Linked DNA regions of Homo sapiens. The protein of the gene in region 2 interacts with the protein of the main gene of each other region in a pairwise test. Each region holds a gene or a part of one and is shown on either strand. Other genes may lie near its edges.

Region 1 (3,817 bases), on a different chromosome or scaffold from region 2:
CCTACTTTGACTTAAAACCAACTGAGTTCCTTTTCCTCACAGGCCCCCCAACCCAGAGGGTACCCTATGATCCTTTCTCTCCTGGCCCCCTGGCATCTTGCTTTCATTTCGGCAGGACAGGATGGGGGAAGGGAGGGAGGGGAGGGCCCCACTTGTCTAGCACCCTCCCTTGGACTGGAACCTCACTCCCAGCCGCTTGGCCCTCATGTTTTTTTCAGCAACTCTGACGACCACCTGCTGAAAAACATCGAGCTGTTTGACAAGCTCTCCCTGCGCTTCAACGGCCGCGTGCTCTTCATCAAGGATGTCATTGGTGACGAGATCTGCTGCTGGTCCTTTTATGGCCAGGGCCGTAAGCTGGCAGAGGTGTGCTGTACCTCCATCGTGTATGCCACGGAGAAGAAGCAGACCAAGGTGTGGGGGATTGCCCCTGCCTGGGTAGGGGAGGACACACACCCACTGTGCGGGGGACGTGGTCGGGCTGTGACCAGCACGGAGCAAAAGGGGCATGGACTTGGCTCTTTTTTCCAAACACGGTAATGGTGCTGGGCAAGGACAAGGCCAGAACAAGGGGTGTGGGGAATGGACGGGAACTGCTTTGTTCCTGACAGCGCAGGGCAGGGGCCGTTGACCACCAGGAAGTAGCCTAGTACAGTGGGAAGGACTGGGTCTTTGAAGTTGGCCCAATTCAGGTTTGAACGCTGGCTCACACCACTTGCCAGTTTTCTGACTTTGGATAAGCCACTTAAGCCATCTGGGCCTCAGGTTCCTCATTTGCAGACATGGGGATGATAGTATGAATTTAACGAGATATGAAAATGATACAACTCTTTGGAGCAGCAGTGTGGTGTAGAAACAGCTTGGGCTTTCGTGTTAGAATGCTGTTCAGATCTCCTGTCTGAGCCAGGGACACAGGTGGGCACAGCACTTGAGCCCAGGAGTTCAAGACCACCCTGGACAACATGGTGAAACCCCGTCTTTACAAAAAATAGAAAAATTAGCCAGGCATCGTGGCACATGCCTGTAGTCCCAAGTACTCAGGAGGCTGCTGTGGGAAGATCCCTTGAGCCCAGGAGTTTGAGGCCAGCCTAAGCAAAATAGCAAGATTCCACTTCCAAACACTTTTAATAATAATAAAATAAAATCTCCTTACTGGCCCCAACCAGCTGGGGGTTTCTGGCTAATCAACTTAGTGCCAGGTACACAGGAGGCATTTGATAGGTGACAGTCATCACAAACTCAGGTGGCCCCTCTCCCCCAGGCTGCAGTCAGTTACCCCAGAGAGTAGCTGCCTCCTGTGAGTGCAGGTCCTGGAGATGATACGCTGGGGTGGATGGCAGGTCATCCAGGAAGGGCCATGTGGGTGTGAAGAGCTCAAAGTAGCCAGACTTGCCAAGCAACTTGTCGACCCCCAAACTACTCCAGGTGCCTCCAGCTGGGAGATCTGCAGAGGGTTTGGGGAAGGCCAACTTACAGGTGGCCCTGCTTCCTTCTGCGGTTTTTGGTGTAGGGGTGGGAGGGAGGGCGACAGGTGGTTCCTGACCCTATCGGTGGTGAAAGGGTTCAGGGGCAGGTCTCCAGTGGCTGGTGATGCTGCGACGGAAGTGGCAGCGCACCTGGCATCTTCTTAAGTGTGTTGTCTTTCATGAACTCGTGTGACCCCTCACAACATGCCTGTGAGACACGCAGGGCTAGAGCCACTCTCCCCATGTGACAGATGAGTGAACAGAAGCTCAGTCCAACAGAGCAGGTCTGGCTAGAATTCAGGTGCTTGACTGCCTTCCCTTTCTCCTTCCTCCAGGCAGGTCATGCCGGTGACACACTGCGTCAGGCAGGCAGAGAAAGGCAGCATAACCACTCAGCATAGCAGCTGCTCTGTGTATGCCTCTGCTTGGTGGTTTGCTGTGTGCCAATCTTCTGCTAAGCAATCACATCTTTCCCGTAATGTTGACAGCAACTCTCAGGGGTTGAGCTGAACCAACCTTTTGTACATATGGGAGCTGCAGCCCAGAAGGGTTCAGCCCAAGGCTCCACAGCTAGCAAGTGGTAGAGCTGTGTTGGGACCTAGCTCTGGCCCACCCTCTATGCCCACTAGTCCCTTGGTCTCAGGCTGGGGCAGGGGTGTGGAGGATGTTGGTCTTCCCTGTCCTCATGTCTGTAGAGTACATCCCCTCACCCCGCCTTCGGAGGGAGGCTGGCTTTCCCTGGAGACGGACCGCCACCTGTTTTATGAGAGGTAGCGGAGGCCTTATGGAGCCTCAGGGCCAGCCGCTCTGACGCATGGCTTCCTCTTGAAGATGAAACCTTGCTCCACCTTCTTCCTCCCTAACCCCAGGTGGAATTCCCAGAGGCCCGAATCTATGAGGAGACACTCAACGTCCTACTCTATGAGACTCCCCGCGTCCCCGACAACTCCTTGTTGGAGGCCACAAGCCGTAGCCGCAGCCAGGCTTCCCCCAGTGAAGATGAGGAGACCTTTGAACTGCGGGACCGTGTCCGCCGCATCCACGTCAAGCGCTACAGCACTTACGATGACCGGCAGCTCGGCCACCAGTCTACCCATCGCGACTGACCAGACCCTCAGGGAGTCAGGGCACGGGAGGCCCTATCTCCCATCCTGTGGAACCCGCCCCATTGGCCACCCCATGCTGCTGCTGCCTGGGTCTCTGCTCTAGCACCCAGAGGCATGACAGGCCCTGCTCAGAGGTCAGAGGGTCTGGGCAGAGGAGGGACCACATTCCCCTGCCTTGCCCCTGAGCACTTCTGGAGACTGCGTCCTGTCCTATCTGCTCACCATCACCCTTCCTGCCCGACGGAGCTGCTTCTGCTCCCTGGGGCATATGGACTGACCCACCTCCTGCTGAGAACCTTCCCCTAGGCCCTGTGCAGAAGGCTACTGCCCCTTAGGCCTCAGCTGGGGGAAAGGCAGTTCTGGTGCTGTAGAGGCCCTGGTGCAGAAAGTGGGACGTCTTTTTTCCTAAGGTGTTTAAGCACAGGCTTGATAAGTTTGGTTTTTAAAAAATAATCTAGGAAATGAATAATTCTAAATCTAGTAATGAGGAAACTGAGCATTTCTTTTGCCCTCCAGGGTGCCAAGACCCTACATATGACAGAACCCTTGGCCCTTCTCCATGCCTGTGGGATCTGTTTCTTTAAAGCACTTTGTACTGTTATTCAGGAGGTTGATAATCTCCTTGACCCATGTCTTTCTACCCTAATCCCCACTTCCCTGCAGAATCAATCTGAGGGAGGGGATAAAGAGGAAGCAATAAAAAAAAAACATCCGACAGAGCAGCTCTGGCTTTGCAGCCTGGCCAGCAGCTCAGAGTGCACCGAGGAGGGAAGGATGGCTAAGCTGGGACCGGCAGTCCTCACAGGGTGCCTGTGAGAAAGGACATTTTACCCCCACATCATAGTCACATCACTGACTCCTAGGTCTAGCACGACTGCTCTTTGTGATTCTCTTGAGTACCCTTGGCTTCCAGCCATGCTGTCCTCACATACGGTAAAGCCAAAGAGCTGTCACATGGGCCAGAAACATGAGCCACGGCAGGAAGACCGTGGAGCCCGTGGGCACTGCATGGTGTTGGCTGGCATGCCCATCAGCTGAGGACAGCAAACTCCCAGCAGCCCCTACAGAGGTGGCACATGCTTGGCCACACATCTACTCCCTGCCCACACCATCTATGCTCTTGGTTGGTGCTGGCTGGGATGGCGGTTCTGCCCAGTGGTGTCTCTGAGCGCGGGATGACAGGAGCAACCGAAGCACCCTGAAGGCCTTCACTCCTTGTTGGGTAACTCAGCCATGGAGATGCCA
Region 2 (3,817 bases):
AGACAAAAAAGGTCTATATAGGGCCAGGCACAGTGGCTCATGCCTGTAATCCCACCACTTTGGGAGGCCAAGACGGGCGGATCACTTGATCCTCTTCAAGAGCAGCCTGGCCAACATGGTCAAGCCCCATCTCTACTAAAAGAATACGAAAACAATTAGCCAGGCATGGTGGCACGTGCCTGTAATCCTAGCTACTCGGGAGACTGAGGCAGGAGAATCACTTGAACCAAGAGGCAAAGGCTGCAGTGAGCCGAGATTGTGCCACCACACTCCAGCCTGGGCGACAGAGTGAGACTCTGTCTCAAACAAACAAACAAAAAATGTCTATATAATATTACCTCTTTTTTTGGTTAAAAAAATTGCTAGAAATACATGTGTGTATATATATATGAAAATAGCAAAAAATTCGAATAACACATACTAGATTGTTAACATGAATTGTGTGGTGGGGGGGAAGCCCAGAAAAAAAAGAAAAGAAAAAAAAGTGAAGGAATAAAGTCCTTGTACAAAGAGATCTTGAACCACCAAGCTTTCACCATTTGTAAGCTCCTTTCTTGCTATACAGAAACACAGCTCTTAAAGGACTATCGGTATCACAAGATAAAAATTGAGCCAAGGATCAATCTAAAACTAGAAATTAGAACAGTGACCTAAGGCACAAGAACAGTCATGCAGCAATGTCAGTTAAAAATAAAATGGAAATGTTTCTATTCCCCTTTTAATTTCTGTTCTTGAGGAAAATTAAACGAATCCACTGTTATTATGTAAGGAAATGGCTATAAAGTTTAGGAAAACTTGTCATTTCAAGGAGATTCCACGAGATGGAATGGAGTTTAGAATGTATACATCTTAATCATATCAACATGGACCAAACCATTCCTAAATAAATCTTTAAAGTTTTCAAGAACTAGCAAAGCAAAGGACTCTCCAAGAAATTTTTTGGAGCTTTCCCCTTACACATTAAGAAAGAAATTGAAAATTCAGACACTGGCAGTTTAGTTATCTGACATCACTTACCCGTAGACTCAAAATCAGGAGTTTTATACTTCAATGACCAGTCAATGGGGTCAGGCCTCCTTACTGTCACTCCTTCCGTTTTTAAAATATTGCACATTTCTTCAATTTCAGCAACAGCCTTTTTCAAATGATCTTTGGGAAAATAATGCCCTCCTTGCTTCTGGTAAAATGGCCAGTACTTTTCATATGTGTTGGCCTGGAAGTAGAAGCAAATAAACACAATACTTACAGGAGAAAAATACAGCTCATGATAGGTTCATAGGCAGTAAACAGCTCTTTGTATAAGGTATTGGAATTGAGACTCCAACCACTCCATGTTCAGTGCTGATCCCTAGCATTGAGCACATAAGCCCTCTGGGCAGACACTCAGTATCTGTTGAATGAAGAACTCTAAAACATCTTGATATTTTGAGGCCTTTTGCTCCTCCTGCCTGAGATCTCATGGCCAACCACTAACAGCATGTTTACCTTCAGACAGACTTGGAATCCTCTTGGCCAGTTTTTTTGCCATGCTTTGCAGACAAAACAGGACATAGCACTTCTATTAGAGAGCCTCAATAAAATGAAACAAGAGAACACACAAACTAGCATAAGAGAATAAAAGCACTTATACTAAGCCAAAACCATGGGCTATCCATGCATCTCAGAATTCTGTCTAGAAAATAGCACCTCAAGATATTTTGTGAAGGGAAAAAAAAAGATATTTTGCCCCGTTAAGATCAGGAGCATACTTTCAAATATGCTTTATTTCTCTTAAAACCCCATTATTGGCCAGGCATGGTTGCTCAGCCTGTAACCCCAGCACTTTGGGAGGCTGAGGCGGGCAGATAGCTTGATGTCAGGAGTTCAAGACCAGCCTGGCCAACATGGGGAAACCCCATTTCTACTAAAAATTCAAAAATTAGCCAGGCATGGTGGCACGTGCCTGTAGTCACAGCTACTTCAGAGGCCAAGGCAGGAGAATTGCTTGAACCCAGGAGGCAGAGGTTGCAGTGAGCTGAGATCGTGCCACTGCACTCCAGCCTGGGTGACAAAGCGAGACTCTGTCTCAAAAAAAAAAAAAGAAAAAGAAAAAGAAAAAGAAAAAAAAAAACATTATTGATTTTCCCATTCAACAGAATTAACACTTGCCAAAATTGTGTGACAGTGCAAATCTGCCTTTGGTAATTCCCTGTCAATATGCCTCATACCAACCACACCTCTCCTTTTTCTAATCCATTCAGCTCTCACATCTCTTCAAGTCTTTTTGTCATACAAGGAAGTGATATGATAAGCAAATTCACAAATTTTTAATAACTGAAAAAAAATTTAGAAAGTTTCCAGGGCTATGTGTATTTTAGAAGACAACTAAAGAGAAAACATTTGAATGCTTTAAAATGGCTCAATCAGTTTGCTAAAAATTATTGTTGAATAGGGTAGGTGCAACAGCTGTTAAATATTGTTGTTTGTTTGTTTTTGTTTTTGAGATGGAGTCTCACTCTGTTGCCCAGACAGGAGTGCAATGGCACCATCTCAGCTCACTGCAACCTCCGCCTCCCACCAGGTTCAAATGATTCTCCTGCCTCAACTCCCTGAGTAACTGGGATTACAGGCGCATGCCACCACGCCCGGCTAATTTTTTGTATTTTTAGTAGAGACAGGGTTTCACCATGTTGGCCAGGCTGGTCTCAATCTCCTGACCTCGTGATCCACCCGCGTCGGCCCCCCAAAGGGCTGGGATTATAGGTGTGAGCCACCATGCCCGGCCAAAATATTGGTTTTCAAAAATGTAAAAATCTAGACAGATTCTGCATTCAGATTGTTTTCCAAATGTCTAAGTTCTTAGTCAATTTCTCAATCATAAATACATTGAGAAATGTACGTGATGCATCTTCCCATTTTTCAAGCTAAATGAAGCAGAACGCCAATCAGAGAATCCAGACTCTAAGAAAAAGCCTTGAACCTTCATCAAAAGATTAGCAAAGCAATGTACATTGATATATTTTAAGTTTAAAAATGTTTTAAGTGTTTTAATTTAAATTTTTGTTTAAAACTGGTTAAAGCAGGTATTTTAAAAATGTTTATTTATATAATTGATGAACTGACAAACTACTAGTCCTGATCATGTCAGATATGACAGTCTCCACCATAAATCAGATAATTTCAGATAGCAATAAGTACTAGAAAGGTGTAAAACTTGGTAATGGGCTCAAGTGTGTCACAGTGTGTCTACTTTAGCTGGATATTCTCATTTGGTTTCCCAGCAATCCTATCAAAGAAACAGGGCAAGTTCTCATATGCTTATTTCACATGTAAGGAAAGAGGCTCTGGCAGGTCACATGCTTGCTAGCTATCTGGACAAGCAGGACTAGAACTCAAGTTCTCTGACTGTTACTCAAAGAGTGTCCCTAATACATCATGGGACTTGGCCATGTTATACTGGTTTGAACACTTCTAACTAGATGTGCAAAAACTTTTAAGACTGGAATTGCTTAACAAGTTCAAATTGTCCCAATGGCTTTTACTCATCAAGACTGATCAAATGTCTAGATGTTTAGCTCTTTAATGTCAAAAACAATATCTTTTCTAGATTTTGTGTCTCGACTTCCATTTTTATCTCAGTCTGACAAATATCAAATATATGAAAGTGGACCCATCTCTGGTTAGTTCAATATCCAGGTTCACATCAGTTACGCTGGAACCTAGCTTGGTGAATAAGGAATAAGCCAAGAAACAGGTCTTTAGAAAAACTGAATGATGCCAGTGAAAGTCTTAAACAGAGGCTGGTAAAAAAAGGTCCATAGGCAAATTTGGCCTGCTG

Evidence for each region.
Region 1: the proteins of GATM (region 2) and TNFAIP1 interact in binary tests that used the Homo sapiens proteins (3 or more experiments, as listed by UniProt).

What each region holds. Positions count from the first base shown.
Region 1 is NC_000017.11:28,342,029-28,345,845, forward strand, and holds part of TNFAIP1 (BTB/POZ domain-containing adapter for CUL3-mediated RhoA degradation protein 2), read left to right. Parts: intron 1-218; coding exon 219-414; coding exon of another isoform or gene 415-536; intron 537-2,335; coding exon 2,336-2,572; coding exon of another isoform or gene 2,573-2,675; 3' UTR 2,676-3,817. UniProt on the Homo sapiens protein: Substrate-specific adapter of a BCR (BTB-CUL3-RBX1) E3 ubiquitin-protein ligase complex involved in regulation of cytoskeleton structure.
Region 2 is NC_000015.10:45,368,309-45,372,125, forward strand, and holds part of GATM (glycine amidinotransferase, mitochondrial isoform 1 precursor), read right to left. Parts: intron 1,214-3,817; coding exon 1,018-1,213; intron 1-1,017. UniProt on the Homo sapiens protein: Transamidinase that catalyzes the transfer of the amidino group of L-arginine onto the amino moiety of acceptor metabolites such as glycine, beta-alanine, gamma-aminobutyric acid (GABA) and taurine yielding the corresponding guanidine derivatives.